4 linked regions of the Homo sapiens genome follow. The protein of the gene in region 3 purifies or fractionates together with the protein of the main gene of each other region. This does not show direct contact. Each region holds a gene or a part of one and is shown on either strand. Other genes may lie near its edges.

Region 1 (4,568 bases), on a different chromosome or scaffold from region 3:
TTTTTGAGATGGAGTCTCACTCTGTCACCCAGGCTGGAGTGCAGTGGCGCGATCTCGGCTCACTGCAAGCTCCGCCTTCTGAGCTCAAGCGATTCTCCTGCCTCAGCCTCCAGAGTAGCTGGGACTACAGGTGTGCACCACCATGCCCAGCTAATTTTTGTATTTTTAGTAGAGATGGAGTTTTACCATGTTGGCCAAGCTGGTCTTGAACTCCTGACCTCAGGGGATCCACCTGCCTCCGCCTCCCAAAGTTCTGGGATTACAGGTGTAAGCCATCACTGGGCGTGGTGGTGTATGCCTGTAATCCCAGCTACTTGGGAGGCTGAGGCAGGAGAATTGCTTGAACCTGGGAGGCGGAGGTTGTAGTGAGCCGAGATCACGCCATTGCACTCCAGCCTGGGCGACAAGAGCGAAACTCCTTCTCAAAAACAAACAAACAAACAAAAGAAATGAGGGCAGAAGCTAGGCCCCTGTGGGGTGTGCATTTTATTCCTGGTGTGTTGGGCGCCCTAGGATGGCTCTGGGCAGAAGAGGGACATGAAGGTGGTCAGACTCTGGATGCCTCGGGCAGGACTGGTGATTTGTTGGGGCCCCCAACCCTGCCCACCCTTTCCTGGCAGGACCTGGAGACCCGCAATGCGGAGTTGGAGCACCAGCTGCGGGCGATGGAGCGCAGCCTGGAGGAGGCACGGGCAGAGCGGGAGCGGGCGCGGGCTGAGGTGGGCCGGGCAGCGCAGCTGCTGGACGTCAGCCTGTTTGAGCTGAGTGAGCTGCGTGAGGGCCTGGCCCGCCTGGCTGAGGCTGCGCCCTGAGCCGGGGCTGGTTTTCTATGAACGATTCCGGCCTGGGATGCGGGCCAGGCTGCAGGCGGCATAGTTGGGCCCATTCGTCCTGGAAAGGGACTGGGGGGTCCCAACTTAGCCCTGGGTGGGCCGGGCCGGGCTGGGCTGGGGTGGGCCCCAGTCGGCTCTGGTTGTTGGCAGCTTTGGGGCTGTTTTTGAGCTTCTCATTGTGTAGAATTTCTAGATCCCCCGATTACATTTCTAAGCGTGGCTGTGTGTGTGTGGTATGTGGGTATCTGGGCACTTAACATGTCGCCGGCGCCTTTCCCTGCGTCTTTTTGGGTGCCCCTGAATCCATGTAGCAGTTATAAGCCGCTTGCAGATGAGGGGTGAGGCTTGGAGTCCGAGGGGGGTCCAGGCCACACAGCCAGGAAGCTGGCTCTGGTGTCTCTCTGCCTGTCCCCTTGGGCTTAGCCCACATTGTCTGGCCAAATTTGGACTTTCATGGCCCCTTCACTCTGGCCACAAACCCCAGATGTGGCCAGGTGGGTGGCCAGGGAAGCTTATAGCTGCACCCATTCGGCACAGGACTGACCTCACCAAAGCCTCACAGCTGCCTCTGGAGAGCAGGGCAGTTGCTATGCCCATTCTCCAGATGAGGAAACTGGAAGCCCAGAGAAGGGGCTTCAGGGCCCAAAATCCCATGGCCATTCGAGCAGCTGGTGTCTGCAAAACTTTGGGCCTGCCTGGTGGAAATGGACATGGTGTTCTGGGCAGACACCTGAGAAACAACAGCGGCTGCACCCCACCTCTCCTGTCCCCCTGCTCTTCGAAAGTCAGACTGAGGAAGTCAAAAGACCCGTTTATTAAGCACCTCCTGTATGCGGCACCCCTGGGGGGTGACCTTGGGTTGGGGTCACAACCTCCCGGTCATGTTCTTTCTTCCCCTGCAGCCTGAATCTTGGCCAGGGCTCAGGGAAGGGACCAGCCAGTGGTTTCGGGGCAGAGGAGCAGGGCCCGCACAACACGAGCGCCCACGGGTTCTGCTGTGGGGCACTGGGTAGGCCCCCGGGAAGGGCTGCTGCCCCCAAGGAAGGTTCCTCCGACCCTCAGCTCCATGGACGAGTCAAGGACTGGGCAGATGGCCGTGTGGGGCTCAGACCAGGCCCTGGGAGGGGACTGGGCCTGAGTGGGACCCAGACGGTGTCCTGGGTGGACGCCCCTTGTGGCCAGCCCTGCCAGCCTTCTGTCGCTTCAGCGTCTCCTCCACCTTCTCCTTGAAGCGCCGGTTCTTCTGCTTGATCTTGGCCAGCTCAGCCTTGCGCTTGGCCTCCAGGTCAGGGTCCTGGCACAGGGAGGACCAGGGGATGGCTGAGCTGGCGGCCCCCGCCAGGGAACCTGGCCACCCACCCCCTACCTGCGGGCTCGGCCCTCACCTTCCCCTCCAGGATCAGCTGCTTCCGTTTGTTGATCTCCTTCTTTTCGTCAAAGTGGGCCGCCTCCAGTTTCTGGTGGAGGGAAGTGGGGTAAGGAGATGCTGGTCACGGGGGCCCCACCTGGAAGGGAGCACCCCCGGCCCTGGAGAGCACTTTAGTTCCTGCCCGCCTCTGACACTCACGATCTCACACTCTCTTCGCACCACGTTGACCTGTGTGAGGATCTGTAGCACCTCGGCCTCTTCCACGGAGAACTCCTCCAGCTTCTTCTCTGTGGGGACAGCAAAGCCGGGGGTGGGGGTGGGGAGGAGACGTGACATGGAGAGGGAGTTCAGCCAAGTAGTGAGTTCCCCATGCTGTGGGGTATGCAAGGCCATCTGGGGCCATATCAGGTAAGGGTCAGCTGAGCAAGATCAGGGATTTCTGAGGTAAGGAAGGTATGGACCGCTGTCTTTCAGAGTCTCACGGTCACCCAAGCTGGAGTGCAGTGGCACTATCTCGGCTCACTGCAACATCCGCCTCCCGGGTTCAAGTAATTCTCATGCCTCAGCCTCCCCCCGCCATTTTTTTTCGGTGTTAGCAGCATTATGAGTTTAACCATGAATATTAATTTCTTGCAAACAGTGTCCTTTAAAGTCCAGATATTTCTTTCTTTTTTTTTGAAGACAGGGTCTTACTCTGTCGCCCATGCTGGAGCGTGGTGGCTCAATCAGGTCACTGTAGCCTCCGCTCAAGCAATCTTCCAACCTCAGCCTCTTGAGTAGTTGGAACTACGGGCGTGTGCTGCTAGTTTCTATATTTTTTGGAGAGGCAGGGTTTCTCCACATTGCCCAGGCTGATCTCAAACTCCTGGGCTCAAGTGATCCACCCACCTTGGCCTCCCAAAGTGCTGGGATTACAGGTGTGAGCCACCGTGCCCGGCCTTAAAGTCCAGATGTTTCTCTTTTTTTTTTTTTTTTTTTTTTTGAGACAGAGTCTCACTGTCACCCAGGCTGGAGCGTAATGGCGCGACCTTGGCTCACTGCAACCTTTGCCTCCCGGGTTCAAGTAATTCTCATGCCTCACCCTCCCAAGTAGCTGCAATTACAGGCGTGCGCCACCACACCTGGCTAATTTTTGTATTTTTAGTAGAGACGGGGTTTCACCATGTTGCCCAGGTTGGTCTTGAACTCCTGGGCTCAAGTGATCCGCCCACCTCGGCCTCTCAAAGTGCTAGGATTACAAGTGTGAGCCACTGTGCCTGGCCAAGTCCAGATGTTTCTAAATTTCAGGACAGTCTATGCAGTGATCAGAGATACCTTAGGAAGTGTCTCTGTCTTGGCTGCATATGAAACCATTCCCAGGGGTTTTTAGCAGGCCAGGCCCTGTCAATGGGGCCTCTGACATCTCAGGGACCTTCCATACATCTCAGTCTAAGAAACCCAAGTCCCCTCCTGACTGATGTGGCTTTCAGCTGCTGGCGACAACTATGGGGAGTTTGTTTCAATAAATGGGCAAAAGAACTTCTTTTGGGGGTGCCTAGGGAAGGAAGCCCCAGCCTAAATCTGCTCACGGGAGCAGGCCGGCTGGTGTCTGACGGGAAAATGGGTCTCACCCCGAGGTGCCCACCTCTGCCCACCCCACCCCTCCTTCTCTACCACCCACCCCAACCCCACTCACTGATCTGCTCCTCGATGGCGTGCACCAGGTGGATGTCGTACTGTGTCACCAGCGTGATGGCCTGACCCTGCCGCCCTGTGGGGATGTGCCGGTTATCTGCTATGTGCTGGGCGTCAGGACATGGGGCGAATAAAGGTAGATCCTGACAGCTACACAGCTCAGGGGTCCTGGAGATGCTGAACAAGGGCTTGGGCTTGGGAGGGATCAGCCCAGAGTGTCTGGGCTTGACCCCAAGCAGGACCACTGTGTGGAGGACGGGTCGCTGGGGAGAGGCAGGTCTGCCAGTCTGGCCTTACACAGCAGTTAGTTACTGCCCGATTTCCCTTTTTGGCTTGGCTGCCAGGGAACCCAGTCTAAGTAATGCCAGCCATTAGCCCTGACGGGCCTCAGCCCAAGATCTCTGCTTGCTGTTTTCTGTGACGTTGACTAGGGCCGAAACTGCACTGATGGTGGACAAGGTCCGTGACCCTCATGGCAGCCCCACGAGGACGTCACCATTCTCATTATCCACCATGTGAGGTCTAGGGAGTGGAAGTGACCTGCCCAGCACCACAGGGTCAGGATAGAAGGTCCAGGCCCAGTCCGACCCCAGCAACCACATCTTTCCTGGCTTCAGAACTGACAGCATCTCATGGACACCATGCCCCTCCCTGACGAGGCAGCAGCAAGTAGTGGGGGCCGGAGCTGTGTG
Region 2 (4,860 bases), on a different chromosome or scaffold from region 3:
CTGCCCCAACCTACACATATAGACCCGAGAATGGTCCTCTCCCTTGATGCCATAGTGCCTTGTCCTCACCTCACTGCCAGCCCCTTCCCCGTGGCAATGACCTGCAGGTGTACCCTCTGCTTCAGCCTCGACACTCTCCAAGACTGCTTCATCTTTGTCTTCTCACTCCACTTGCAGTAGCAAGTCCTCAAAGATTGTTTGAAGGGCCCAAATGTGAGTTTTAGTCTTTGCTATTATTTTCTGTACCACCTTGGCTAAGTACCTCAAAATTCTCAGTGCTTCTATTTTGTCATACACAAAACAAAGATAAACTGTTGGGCCCAACTAAAAGTTCTGAAGTTCTGAAGTGGAAGAACAGTGAATACCACAGAATAGCTGGGGCAGGCAGGCAGCCTGGGCCCTCCCACAACAATGCCAAGATGACTGAGTCTCAGAGGATCACAGAAAGTCCCCCTCCATGCGGTCAGATCAGGCCTTTGGCCTTTGGGTAAGGCTGTACTCAACTACCAAAGAAAGACAGCTTTATCTCTCTTTCAAAGAGTTCCAGCAAACCTTTGAAGTCAATGTTATGATGTTCCTGGCTAGGTGACATTGGGGAAAAGCTTCCTGTGATTTGCCCCAATTCCCTCCCCTCAGCGTCAATCCTCGGTGGAGGCAAAGAACATTTGCTCATGGCCAGCAGCTCACATCAGGTGCCTTGCTCATTCACAGCCTAAAAAATGGAGGCGAGGGGCAGGGAAAATTGTAGTTCATTCTTTATTTTGAAACCTTAATCAATGAATTAATGCCATCATTACACATTTTCTAAGACAGGAGACAAAAAGTTACAGCAAACTTGGGGTTCTCTGGGAGTTGTGGTTTACCAGGCCCACTGACACCATTCAGTTCCTTAGAAGGAGCTTGTCTCCCTTTGCATTAATTATCTTACATTGAAAAGATTCTGTTACTTTCATTTATCCTCCTAGGAAAAGTGGATTATATGCAAAATCATTAGATGACCCTTCTCATGGTAATTCTGAGTTCCATTTTACCTTTACAGGTTTATAATTAGACTTCGTATTCTAGGTTTGAATGTGTCCTAACTTTACAAAAGTCAGTGAATACTGTTAATTTCTTTTAAAAAGGTACTAGAAATAGTATATCCGGGTTTATGTTTTTCTCCTGGACCTAATTCTTCTGCCTCTGTACATTTTAGCAAGCAAACCTTTTAAGCATTTTGCCTCTTGGACTACTGCTTTTTTTCTGCATAAGGAATAGCAGTTACAAAGCCAAAAGGACCTTCTTTACATGGATCTTGCTTTGTCTTTACCTTGACAGAGGAGTGAATTAAAGATGCATTCAGCTATTGCATCAACTGGATGTTAACAAGAGAAGATAATCCGTTACATGATGTGCCTTCTTCTGTGCCCCAGAAACTTCTTCATACCTTTACCATCCCTCTCCTCTTTCAATCCCAGCTTCTGAAAAAAGAACTCGTCCTGCACTAGGTCCTTAATCCCATGAGAAGCTTCCATAACTCCCTGTCGCTTCTCTTACAATATAAAAGGTGCTCACGCCTTGAACCTTAAAAAAGTTCTTCAATCACTTGCAGATGATTTTTAAACTAGGACACATAGTTGGCTTTGGTGGACTGTAAAGAACTGAAGTAAAGGCGAAATGTTAAAAAAAATAAAAAATAAAAAAACAGCCAGAAAAACAAACCTTTACCCTGCCATGTGTGAAACTGTAGATGAGCTAGAACGAGAGTCCCCAGCTTAATGAAAACTGCCGAGGGTGGCAATAGTCCTGCTTGCCTGTGTTTCAGGGGTGGGCAAGATAAGGGATAGTGAAGATAGGGGAGTGACTAAGAGCATATCACAAGTTCATGTAGATAGTAACTTTCATGATACTGGCAAATAAGTAGCTGGACGTTACACAATAATACTTTACCTTTCTGGTTCTAACGCATTATCTTTTACGGTAGTTACAAGGACAGCCACATGTTATCAGTATTTATATGCTATTACAACACATTTGACTAAGGAGCTGATCTCAGTGTAAGATGCTTTGCTAGCATGTATACAAAAAATCAAAATGAATTAAAGGAAGTAAAGGCTTAATGTAAAAATAAAATAGGGCAGGGATAAGCACGTTTTTTCTGTGAAGGGTCAGTAAACAGGATAGGCTTTGCAGGCTCTCCATCTCCGTCACAACTCCACTCTGCCATTGTAGCATGAAAGCAGTCAAAGACAATATGTAAATACATGGGCATGGCTGTGTTCCAGTACAAATTTATTTACAAAAACAGGCAGCAGGAAGGACTGGCACACAAGCCATAGTTTGTCAAGCCCTGAAGATGAGGAAATCCCCCAAATAAGCAGAAGCACTTTAGTACTCTCCATAGAGCCCTCACTTACCCCTAGGTTACAGGGCTACATACAAGCTGTGTTTAACCTTAGAATATAAGCTCTGTGAGGTCAGAAACGTTGCAATATTCACAACTGTATTCCCAGTACTCAGTTCCCAGAGAACTGGCATAGTTGGCACAAGTACGGACTCACAATAAAGACATGTTCAATGAATTAACTAATGAATGAACAACTTATGGAGCTTTAAAAGGCAATCCTGACCATAGATGATTTTCCTATACTACCACGTCCACCCTCACTGTCATCCCGTCACGCCCCACTTCTTTGCAAACTGGACAACTGTACTGGGACTAGGGTACCAAAATTATGACTCCTTCTAAAAACTTTTACACTAATTTAGGAAAAAACTTGCTTTTCAACAGCTAAGATCACATGAAGGCATGTATATCTTACATTTTTCTTACTCCCCTTTGTCTTAGTTAAATCATTCTCTAGTAAATTCTCTTTCAAAGCAAAGGCAATGTCCAAGAGGGCAAAACCATTAATAACTATCTTTTGGGAACCACAAGTTCATGCAGATAGTAACTTTCATGATATTGCCAAATACGTATTTGGGCATTATACAATAGTACTTTCCTTTCCGGTTCTCAGGCATTATCTTTTATGGTAGTCAAAAGAGCAGTCACATGTTATCAATACTTTATCACAGGTCATGCTTCACCTATAGAAAGGTAAAAAATAACTCACACTGATCTCTCCTAAAAAAACGTGTGGTTCTCATAAGCTCTGGGCCATCGTTATACATTTATTAAGTGGCTACTAAGGGTTCTTGACATGGTGGGAAAAGCACCAAATGAAAAGCAAGGCACTATTGTGGCCCTTTCATTTCAAAAAAAGTGAGTTAGGATGACAATCATCTGCTAGGAACTACAAGTTCACGCAGATAGTTACTTTCATGATATTGTCAAATATAGTTGGACATCACACTTATAATACTTTATCTTTTGGTTCAGAGGCATTATCTTTTATAGCAGCCATGATGAGCTTATTTAAAGATAAAATATAACTGAATGCTAATTAACATAGATTTGAATGCTAAATTCATTAGGAACTATGTTCAAAGCCTAATGTTGAACAAACTTCAGACAATAGAGTTAAGAATTTTTTTTTTCTGTAAAGGACCTTAATGATCACTTGACATTCTCACTCTACAGATGAGATCCAACTAAGAAGAACAGAATACTTGCTATCTTCAGAGTAGAATATTTTGAAATGTGTGAGTATAATACATGTTTTATAGCCAACTAAAGATGTATCAAATGTTCCCCACGTGCTCCTTGGTAAAAAGCATATGAATATTTTGCTAATCCTGAGCCCATATAGTTTAAAAAAAGGGGGGAGCAGATGTTTGAAGATGTGCTATCCTCAAACTCAAACATGACTTCACATGTCAACATATGTTGGATTTGATTTCAGCCTGCTCAGGTAAGTCCCACGACAAGACACTCTTCCTACCCAGGAAGACTTCAACTTTCAAAGCACAGAGAGTCAGGTACTTAATGTGCAAAGATAGTTCAGTTTCCTTGGAAGAAAATCAGGAATAGAAGCCTTCTGTTTGGGTTGAGTGTTTCCCTAAAACCTGTTGAGTAGTAGTTTTTCCTAATATTGGACAGCAGTTAACTAGGAGCAGACAGATTGAATGAAGATGCCCATATCAACCTTGGTTACCACCTTGAGGTAGGCCTGAGCTGCTGCTTTTACTTCTTTGGCTGCAATCAAAGGCATCTCTGATTTTCTTCCTGCCACAACATTTCCTTAGCATTTTAATGCAATTTGCCCCAGAAAATGATTTGTTTCACCAAATTCTTTTTACTAGGTAATTTTCTAGAACACATGTGCTTTTATAAGGAAGTTAAAACTGTATTTCAAAGGTAAGCACAACCACAAACTAAGACACAATTACACTGTAATCCCAAAACGTGTATAAGTCATCCGGCACACACACACCTCTGTTTGCGCATTCTCCCTGATTCAACCACATCAACCATAAACACTGAGGTTCACAGATAGGAGAGTTCTAATACTCTAAACATAGGCCCTTCTCAGAAAGCCACAGTCATCAAAGACCACAGGTGAAAGACAACAGTTAAATGAGATACTATTCACAGGCTTTCAGATCAACATACACAGAGAGGTCATTATATCCAGAATTCTCCCAAGGAACCACCAGGCAAATACACACACTCACATAGATCCCACAAGCAGAAAAATGCATTTTATAAGGGCAGACATCAATAGAACGGCTAGGTACCACTCCAACTCTGCAAGATCCTACAAAATGAAATGGAGGAGACTGCTGCAAGAGGAGCAGTATAAAAAAAAAAAATTAAGCAGTAGTGTTCCTGGCAAGGTTCAGATGGAAAAACAGCAACAGATCCCAGAAGCAGAGCTGCAGCCAGGAATAACCTAAGCTCAAGCCATTTTAAGTAAGGGCAGGATAATACTTACTAAG
Region 3 (5,470 bases):
TATTCAGATTTCCCATAAAACTTGGCAATGTGTATTACCAGTGAAAATCTAAAGTTTCTACTTGGGAAGGAATACCCAGTGATGGGTAATCCCTCATTCTGAGAACACAGTCAGAATATCTTGGAGCTACCAACATTGTGCTTGGCTCTTAATGCGAAGTTTTCAGGGTTGGGGATGTGCTAAAAACACTTTTAACCAATCAATCTGCAAACCATTCTTACACGTTTCTCTTCTTTATTCTTCTTTCCTTCTTTTCTTTTTTCTTTCCTCTTGCTCTTTCAAAAACCACCTCTTGGAACTAAGGGTAACAATGATTCCTGGTCATAATTTTACCTATTCTTGTCAATACAGATTTTAAAATTAATTTTGAGATTTATCTATTGCTAGGCCTAACAGTTTTCAAAGACCACAACGTAACATTAAAATTCCTGACCTTTCCAGTTGAGACACAGCAGTACTATATGAAGTATTATAGTCTGCTGCAGAAAGTAATGCAACCCTATCAGTGAAGAAGCATAAATGGTGGGAGCCTATCATAACCTGTATATGCTGATTCTCCTGAAGGGAACACACCTATGTTTGGCAGCAAATGGGTAAAAACAAGTTCATGAGTGAGGTAAAGAGTTGAAAACAAGTTAAGGACTGCAGAATATGGGCAGACACAGAGAATCTTAACCTAAAACAGTTCTAAGGAATTTAATTTACTTTTCCTTTCTTCACATGTTTTTGGGGAAAAAATTACAGAATTAGCCAATCTAAAAAAATGAAACAAATCACTATAATTAAAAATATATACATTTAGTATGGTCTAGCACCTGAACAAAATTCAGATCTTGTGTTTTGACTAAAGAACTGTATTTTCTGTCTATCAAATCAGGTGCTCTCATAATTATTAAACTTTGGGTATCTACACAGAAACTTATTCCAAAGTTCACTGCTCATGGACTTACAAATATTTAGGATCAATATTAGAGATGCTTTAATGGCACCAGATGAAAAGTATACCCAAGTCTAGAGGATCATACAAATTTCAACTACAGACCAGAAAGTTTCATATTTTTAGCAGCAGAAATAATATTCATTAGTTTAAGGTTTTCAGTTTCTCATTAGTCTTAATAATTTTTTTCTCCCAGATTTATGAGTCATAGATGAAAATCTTACAGTCTATACTCTTCATTGTTGCCTACGTTGTGTAAAAACTATAGTTAACTGTTTTTAATAACTTTGCAATGTCTAAAAATAAATATGTAAGGACAATGTATCGCTGTCATATGGGATTCAGTAAACAATCTAGTTGGGTTAAGAATGCAGCCTTGGCCGGTGCAGTGATCCCAGCAGTCTGGGAGGCCAAAGGAGGAGGATCACTTGGTCTAGGAGTTCAAGACCAGCCTGGGCACCATAGTGAGACCTCATCTCTACAAAAAATAAAAATGAAGTTAACCAGGTGTGGTGGAGCATGCCTATAATCCTAGATACTCAAGAGGCTGAGGCAGGAGAATGGCCTGAGCCCAGGAGTTCGAAGCTGCAGTGAGCTATGACTTAGCCACTATACTCCAGCCTGGGCAACAGAGTGAGATGCCATTCTTTTAAAAAAAAAGAAAAAAAAAAAGAATGTAGCCTCAATAGAGAATTATTTATTATGTCCAAAAGAGCACAATGAAAACATCCCCAACAACACATAAACCTATATATAAAATATAGAATATCTCCAGTATTTTTACTTTATATGGCAGCACGCCAATATATGCAAGAGAACATATTGATGGGGCAGGGGGAAAACTGATCCGGGCAATGACACAGTCAGGCATTACATTCGGAGACCAGGTAAACAGCAATTTTAATCTGAAAAGCAGTATGAGAAGAGTTCCTATGAAGCTGGGATTTACATACTTCATTCTCCGTTCCTGGTCATTTCATCCACAGCTTGACTGTTGTCAATCATGGTTCCTTGCCTTTGGAGTGGTACTATAAAGGTACAGAGAATGCCCATCTCAGTACCAAAATTTCACCATGAAAAATCATAACAGAAATGACAAAGCTTAAAGAAAAGTACGCCGGATTTCAGAAGTATTTACCATAATAATTTTTAAGAAAGCTTACCATAAATACTTCCAAAAACAACAGGCTTTACAAAATATTATACAACATCCTGTGTACAGCAGTAAGTATCTACTCAGGCCATTTGTCAAGCTGTTTAGTAATTAGTTTCTCATGTACCCTCTTGTCTCAAGAAGGTCAATAATCATCTGATTTCCTCTCTAGCTAATGATCTGTTGTTAGCCTACTTTTAACAATGGAAGAAGGAACTGGTATATGTTTTAAGTCAACCAGTTCTCCTTAAGTCTCATAGTTTCTGTTTCAACATCATGTTATTGTGTACTTACAGAAGCAATCTCTCAGTTAGGAAAAATAAAATCAGTTTCAGGGCTCAGAAAGTAAAAAGGGAAATTCTTTCCCAATCTCCCCCTCCCTCCCACCCGGCTTTTTTTGTTTAAAAAATTAAATTAAATTTAAATGTACAAGACCAAGCACAGGCACTTTCCAAAAAACAAAACTGAAGCCAAATCACAAAACTACTCAATAGTTATAGAAGACAGCTCTGATTTTGGGGGGTCATCTCTGGTTGCCTCAGCACAAGCACTGCTCTTTGGCTGCTCTGGCACTTCTTCCTCTTTTTCTGCCAGCCCACCAAGAGACCCCAAGGGAAAAGTGCTTTCACAATTCTGGGTTGAGGAGACCTGTGAAATGACAGGCATTTGAACAGAGGAGTTGCTTTCAAAACCGTGTTCTCCAAGATCATATTGAACAAGGGTCTCTTCTTGTTCCTGGTTTAAGTAGTCCGGTACTAGGAAATCACTAGATAAGAGGCAAAGGATGAAATATGGAATTAATTTTCAAACCAGTAATAGATAAGCAACAGTAAAAAGCTCTGATTTATACAACAAAATTGGGACTCTTCATTTCACTAATTGTTCAGTGAAGATTAAAACTCAGGAACTTTCAACTTATAAACTTTCCTAAATATGAACCAAAACATCCATTAAAACCAAAATGTATCAATCTTCCCCACCACCAATACATCAGGTTAATTATCACTTTCATTATAACTCTGGACACCTTAACAGCCTTTCTTGTTCTATGTAGAGGAGTTTCTATATACAAAACAAATGTAGCATGCTCACTTAAACAAAGATCATCTGAGTAACTTTAATGCTAAACTTTTCTTGATTATACATTGAGTAAGAGATATATAAACCTAGCTTTGTATTACTAAACTTGACATAGGTTAGTTAAGAAACTAAGTCCTTATGCATAAATGACCTGATACATAATCTACTATAAAGTTGGGAAATGTAGAAAGTAATTTATGTGTATCCTGCTATTACATTTGGTATATGAAAATACTAATAAAGAATTTGGAAATGAATGCCTTGAGATTGGTTATGTGATAATCCTCAAAACGTGTTCAATTATTGGTCCCCACAGGCAACATGGACAGTAAAATATACTAAAAACAGTGGCTACTTTCCTTAAGTGATGAAATAGAAAATATTTTAAATTTCTTCTTCATACTTTTCTGTATTTCCTAAATTTCCTACTTATAAGCATCTTTTGGTAATTGAAACTAAGTATGTGAAATAAGTCTTATCTTAGAGGCTTTATTTAAATCTTTATTACTGAACTAAGAACTTCATTATACCATAATTGTCAATAATATATGTACTTAGACTTGATAAGGTTATTTTATAATTTCATTGTTCAGTATTAATAAAAAATTAAAATCTGTTCATCTGCAAAGTAATTTAGAATGCCCTATGTTATATTTTCTAAAAAGTCTTCATTCAGGTGTTAGAGAAGAAGAATGGAGAATACAGGGCTCTGTACAGGGACGATAAAGATAACATGAGTAGTTAACAGGAACACTATTTTAGTCCTGAACAAACTATGTTTAATATGATATGTATAACCTAAGGTTTAGTGATATGGCAACCACACATTCAGAATTAGAGATGACTGCATTAAACAAAATGAATGTCTGGTTTGAAGGGAAAAACAAAATCTACGCAGGAATAATTTGGAATTTGTTTACAAATAAGGTTTTAAGTCAGGGGTGGTGCCCACACTTGTAGCCCCAGCAGGAGAACTGCTTGACCTCAGGAGTTCGAGGCTGCAGTGCACTATGATTGTGTCTATGAACAGCCACTGCACTTCAGCCTGGGCAACACTGCAAGACCCTATCTATTCAATTAAAAAAAAAAAAGGTTTTAAAAATAAGGGTGATTTAAAATGTAAAGATTTGGGCTGGGCATGGTGGCTCACGCCTGTAATCCCACAGCACTTTGGGAGGCTGAAGCAGGCGGATCACTTGAGGTCAGGGGTTCGAGATCAGACTGGCCAACATGGTGAAACCCCATCTCTACTAAAAATACAAATATTAGCTGGGTGTAGTGGTGGGCACCTGTAATCCCAGCTACTCAGGAGGCTGAGGTTGCAGTAAGCCGAAATCGTGCCACTGCATTCCAGCCTGGGTGACAGTGAGACTCCATCTCAAAAAAAAAAAAAAGAAAGATTTGTAAAAATTTCATTTTATGAGAAACTAAGGATTCCTACAGAAGTACAATTCTTATAAACAATTTAAAACAACAGTTTTATATCTAGAGAAGGCCTTAGAAACCATCGTTTAAAGCTTACATTTTATCTTTCTCTAAGTTTCAAGCTTTTTCATGTGTAAAGTGACAGGTTTAATCAACAGCAGTTAGTGGCAGAGCTAGATCTAGAAGCTGATTTCCTGGGATGCCCTATAAATCAGAAAGGTAATTCTATTATAAATTAATATTACAAGAATAGAGCTCTAAACTGAATGAAAATAGCAATGACTTCATGATCTAAACCATCACACCCACTATAGTTGCCTTTGAAATTTTTCTTACTGGCCAATGGCTATTCCTTTATATAGAATATTTTTAAATAGAGAGAAGTGGTAAAGAATTTTATTAACATCTAGAGTCTGGAGTAATCCAGTATCACTAAGCATCATCTGACATGGTAAAATTTCCAGTAAGATCTATTTAAGGTCCATTACAGAATTACTTAAACCTTGTATTATTTAAAAAATATCTCAAGAGGACAAGTAGTCTACTTCTGCAGGAAAATATTTTTAATACCAACTATAAAATGTTTATAATTTTATATACGTAGAAGACTCAGCAAAATTTTATCAGATCAGGAGATTAGAGTATGAACAGTGGGAATCCGTAACAAATGTGACTGACTAGCTGGCAACCTGATGTAAAAACACAGAAGGCTGCCCTAAAAGCAGGAAAAGAGAGTTTAGAAAGCAGTTTTCCTGGTTGGGTTTTCGTTGTGCACCTCACCTGCTCTGGAAGTAGTTTGCTAGCTCTGATGCTTCATGGTTCAGACTCCTCAGGTGCACGATTAAATTTCCAGAGTTGGTGAACATGGCGCCACA
Region 4 (4,860 bases), on a different chromosome or scaffold from region 3:
AGTTTATTAGCTAGTCTAGGCCAGGCGCGGTGGCTCACACCTGTAATCCCAGCACTTTGGGAGGCCGAGGCGGGCGGATCATGAGGTCAGGAGATCGAGACCATCCTGGCTAACACAGTGAAAACCCGTCTCTACTAAAAATACAAAAAATTAGCCGGGCGTGGTGGTGGGCGCCTGTAGTCCCAGCTACTCAGGAGGCTGAGGCAGGAGAATGGCGTGAACCCGGGAGGCGGAGCTTGCAGTGAGCCGAGATTGCGCCACTGCACTCCAGCCTGGGCGACAGAGCGAGACTCCATCTCAAAAAAAAAAAAATAGTTTATTAGCTACTCTTAATTTGTTTATTCTTTTAGATGATTATTGGTATCCTTTTTCTTAACTTTGACTTGAACTGGGATTTTGATCAAAATTACCCTAGAACAGTAGACATAACATCTTTAAATATTTAAACAGAATAATACAGGTTGAGCATCCCAAATCCCAAATCCAAAATTCCAAACTTTTTGACTGTCAACGTGAGGTTCAAAGGAAACGCTCATTGGCGCATTTCAGATTTTGGAATTGCGATGCTCATCCAGTAAGTATATATAATGCAATTTTATTTCAAAATCTGAAATTCTAAACACTTCTGATCCCAAGCATTTTGGATAAGGGAGACTCAATCTCTAATAATGATTGAGGGCAGGGCTATTTCAGGCACTGCACTAAATACTTAGTTCAAGCTCCTTTATACTTAATCCTTACAATCACCAATACTATTGTTATATCCATTTGGATATATTGGAAAGATGTAAACATACTTGAGAGATTAATTAAGTGTCCAGGATCACATAACACTTACGAGAATCAAGATTTGAACCCAGGTCTGCAATAATGCAAAGCCTGGATTCTTAATTATTAGGTTGGCTTGAAATATGGTATCCTCAAAATTTATGTAAGTTTTTCAAATTTATCAAGTGTTACAGTTTACTTCACATAGGTCATTTGTGTTTATTAAGGTAATTTCCAAGAACTTTATGTGGTTTTGTTTCTAGTATAATTAGATTTTTTCCTTAATTGGCCAGTGTTAGCAATAAGGAATGCAATTTATTGTTAAAAACACTTCTTATATGCTGTCCCTTTACTGAGCTTTTATTTCTTTGGATTTTTAATGTGTAAACAATCATATAACCTATCAATAATAATAATTTCACCTCTTCCTTTCTAACATTTATACCTGTTACATAAGTTTCACACTCAATTGGATTGGACAACTTCCACAGTATTTTCCTAAAAAGGAAAACTATGGCCAAAAAAAAAAAAAAAAATCAGATTTAACTTAAAATGCCTAGAAATATTTATTTCAAAATGAAATCAATTCTCACCTTGACGGAAAATATTACACCTCCTTTGGGTTTAAATGAATTGAACAGAGCCAGCAAATCTTTTGCCTTTAATCTATCCCAGTCCATGTTACAAACTGCTAATCGACGTGTAATCTGAGAAATGAGAAGAATTAAATAGTACATAATCCATATCATTCTCAATACTTGAAAAATAAAGATTCTAAAAATGTAATGCCTTCTGTCCCCTATGCTCTGAAATTAATAGTACAGGAGTTATCTAAGCGTAATTCAGTATATAAAAGAGAACTTCAAATGAGCCAAACAATAGTAAAACCATAACAGGTAAGTACTTTCTCTTACTTGGTTCTTAATTCTTAAATCAGAACATGATCATGAGCTGATTTTTTAACCACCAAGTTTGTTCAGCTATTTTGCCATGCATGCATGAGTAAGGAAGTTGAGTATGTTACCCTGCAACATTTCTTTTGGGTGCCGTACAAACAGAAATACAAACTACTAGCTAAAACAAGTATTAAAAATTTCATGCAACTTTTAATTATTTATGTAGAGCCTCTTCTTATCTGCTTGGACGTCTTCTAGTTCATATAATTATATTCCATATCAAATTTTAATCAGAATCATAAAGAATACTATTACCAATAAGCTTTTCCCACTTAATGACATCAGTTCTACCAGCCATAAAAGCTGCTTGTACTGTGTTTTTCACAAATAATCTTGTTTATTCAAAAGGTTACCTCATCAGCACGAGGAGCATCTTTATCTAATTCTCTCCAAGCATGCTCAAAACCAGATTCTTCTGGAAACAAATCTGCCGTATCATCTTCATCTTCAGAACTAGTTTCTATATTTCCTTTACCCCTTGCAAGATCAGGGCCACTGTCACTTTTATCATCATCCTCACTATCCTCATCTTCATCCTCCTCTTCATCTTCATCCTCCTCTTCATCATCTTCACTTCCATCGTCATCACCTGAAGCTCTACCAACACTTGTAATTTCATTTTCAGATTCCTCATCACTTCCTATTTCACTAACGCTTTCTGAATCTTCCTCCAGAGCATCTTTGTCACACATTTCACCATCTGTTGAGTTTTCATAACCATCACTGTCTCTTGTCATTATGAGTTGAACCACTGCAAAATGTTAAAGGGGAAAGAAATTAAGAAAAGATATATGCTGAATTAAACTGAATCCAAATTATCTTGACATCAACTCCAGTAAAAATATAATTTCTATGAAACACAGTAAAGACAAATATATATTCAGTAAATGCTTAGTCAATTTTTATGATAGAAATCCTAACCATAACTTCTATGAAACAGAGTAAAGGAAAATACACTTAACCAAGTTATTTAATGGAAATCCTAACACATGCTCACATCACGCAAGTAGATCCAGACATTCATTCAATACTTAACAGTGTGCCTGCTACGTGCTAAGTGCTCAATATACAACAGTTGGTAAAAGAGAAGCAAACAGTGCTCTCAGTGAAACTTCTAGCTGAGTGAAAAGAATACATGGATATCAAATAAAATCAATATATAGGAAAAGTTAAAATCACAACTAAGATATCCCAGAAAGAATGTTTTCTAAGGGGATTTAATGGGGTCCCTAAGTGAGTGATAACTGAGCTGTTACTTGAAGGATGAACAGGAGTTAAATAGTCAAAGTTAGACTAATAGATGGAAATTTGTTTGAAAGAGCAAGGAAGGTACCTGTAAAAATCTGCCAATAGGAAAAAGCCAACCATCATGTCCAGATCACAGATAGCACAGAATCAAGTAACAAATGGAAATGAAGAGTTAAGTAGAGGCCAAGCTATCAAAAAACCATATAGAGAGCTTGGACTTTTTCATAAAAGCAATGGGAAGACACTGCTGTTTTCAAAAAAGAGGATGTCATCTTCTTTTGGATATTGTCATCCTCAGACTTGCATATTGAGGAGATCACCTTGACTATACTGTAGAAAACTGACTTGGGAAAGTAAAGAACAGATGTGAATATAGTAAAGGTAGTACAGTACAAAAAGCAAGAAATGAAGGTAGCACTAAGTTGGGTGGCAGTATGTATGCAGAGATGTACATGGATTTCAGAGTCAGTCAGGAAGTGAAACCAATAATTACCGACTGGAGATTTGACACGGGGACTGGGAGTTTTGGAAGTGTCAAAGATGAGTCATAGCTTCTTAGCTTTCAGAGCTAGTTAGCTAAGAAGATGGAAAGATGAAAAGGGAACACTGGAAATGAACTAGTTTGTTTGGTGGAGGGAAATCATGAGTTCAGTTTTGAATATGTTGAATACGAAGTGCCACTCAGTCATCTAAAAGAAAGTATCAATAATAAGAGTGTACAGCTCAGAGAAGTCTGGGTTGGAGATCAGTGACTCATTCATACGCAGTTGACAACAGAAGCTGTGATGTGGATGAGATCACCTATAAAGACAGAGAAATAATATTTATACTTTTTCTGCCAGGTCTTGAACTTTGTAATCAACTGTCATGATTAGCAATACACCAAGATTGAAAGACTGTTTTTGCTTAAGATGGAAATTTTAGTCCTCACAACTCTGAAAGGGCTCATTTCCTACTTCTAAAGCAATCACAGGCTTCTATCTACTTGGTGTGTAGATATATCTTACGTGTTTTACTCATCTTTAAGTTGGAGCTTATTTTCTGCTTACAGGCTCTAAGTTTGGAAAATTAAAAGCAAATTTAAAAGTTCAAGATTTAGAATGAAATTGGAACTAATTTTCTCTTGGTCCTATAATCTTATAATAGTTATTCACTGACCAAATATTTACTGAGTATCTACTACATACAAAGAATTGAGCTAGGATAAGGGAAAAGAGAGAAGATTTGTAACACGATCTCATGCTCTTGATGGATTCATAAATAAAAGGTAACCATTTACTGATTTATAAATCTATGTTCTCAATCACCATACAGTGAGAGACATCTAAATTTGCCTGCAGAGAGGTATTTATAAAAAGGCTTCACAAAGATACAACTTGACTTGAGACTAACTGAATGAAAAGGCATCTTGTTAGAAGGAAAAGCAGGAAATGGGCTTTTATGTTACCACCACAACGAAGCAGGGATTAATAAAAATAACTAGCCAATAGAAGTGAAAAGCGCCAAAATGAAAGCATTGTCACAGGTTCTATATATGAGATCTGAAAAACACAACATTGAAAGTTACTATGAGGTAAGCAGAATTTACTTTTAAGCAACAAGCTTAGAAATAACATCTTACAGACCCAGTCTATCTAGTATTGCAATATTTCTCAACTGTCAGTCATTATACCATTTTCATGATTTTTGAATATCATTTTTTTATTAAATTGAATTTTTTAAAAGTTAGTTTTGCTCTAAACAATATTCCTAAAGTCACAGAAGTGATAGGGTAATTACATTGTTTTCTAAGATGTTGACACAGTACATAACTATTAATATTTTAGAAGTTTGAGTATCATCAAAAATCTTCTCACTTATGACAATGGTACACATACCACACTTTGGG

The links. Proteins that work in one complex are often made in the same cells at the same time.
Region 1: the proteins of ZBTB44 (region 3) and DDX49 purify together in Homo sapiens (affinity purification with mass spectrometry; one large-scale study listed by BioGRID and IntAct). This does not show direct contact.
Region 2: the proteins of ZBTB44 (region 3) and CILK1 purify together in Homo sapiens (affinity purification with mass spectrometry; one large-scale study listed by BioGRID and IntAct). This does not show direct contact.
Region 4: the proteins of ZBTB44 (region 3) and ESF1 purify together in Homo sapiens (affinity purification with mass spectrometry; one large-scale study listed by BioGRID and IntAct). This does not show direct contact.

The regions. Positions count from the first base shown.
Region 1 is NC_000019.10:18,925,687-18,930,254, reverse strand, and holds the end of DDX49 (probable ATP-dependent RNA helicase DDX49), read right to left. Parts: intron 3,953-4,568; coding exon 3,878-3,952; intron 2,490-3,877; coding exon 2,401-2,489; intron 2,291-2,400; coding exon 2,219-2,290; intron 2,128-2,218; coding exon 1,939-2,127; 3' UTR 1,625-1,938; downstream 1-1,624. Other genes in the region: HOMER3 (homer protein homolog 3), read left to right, coding at 621-812. UniProt on the Homo sapiens protein: ATP-dependent RNA helicase that plays a role in various aspects of RNA metabolism including the regulation of mRNA export and the levels of pre-ribosomal RNA. Regulates the stability and synthesis of pre-ribosomal RNA and thereby regulates cell proliferation.
Region 2 is NC_000006.12:53,054,201-53,059,060, forward strand, and holds part of CILK1 (serine/threonine-protein kinase ICK), read right to left. Parts: intron 1-4,860.
Region 3 is NC_000011.10:130,231,418-130,236,887, forward strand, and holds part of ZBTB44 (zinc finger and BTB domain-containing protein 44), read right to left. Parts: coding exon 5,376-5,470; intron 4,800-5,375; exon of another isoform or gene 4,693-4,799; intron 2,857-4,692; coding exon 2,739-2,856; coding exon of another isoform or gene 2,574-2,738; exon of another isoform or gene 1,966-2,573; coding exon 1,939-1,965; coding exon of another isoform or gene 1,892-1,938; 3' UTR 1,891-1,891; exon of another isoform or gene 299-1,890; 3' UTR 1-298. UniProt on the Homo sapiens protein: May be involved in transcriptional regulation.
Region 4 is NC_000020.11:13,773,796-13,778,655, forward strand, and holds part of ESF1 (ESF1 homolog), read right to left. Parts: intron 2,476-4,860; coding exon 2,078-2,475; intron 1,476-2,077; coding exon 1,362-1,475; intron 1-1,361. UniProt on the Homo sapiens protein: May constitute a novel regulatory system for basal transcription. Negatively regulates ABT1.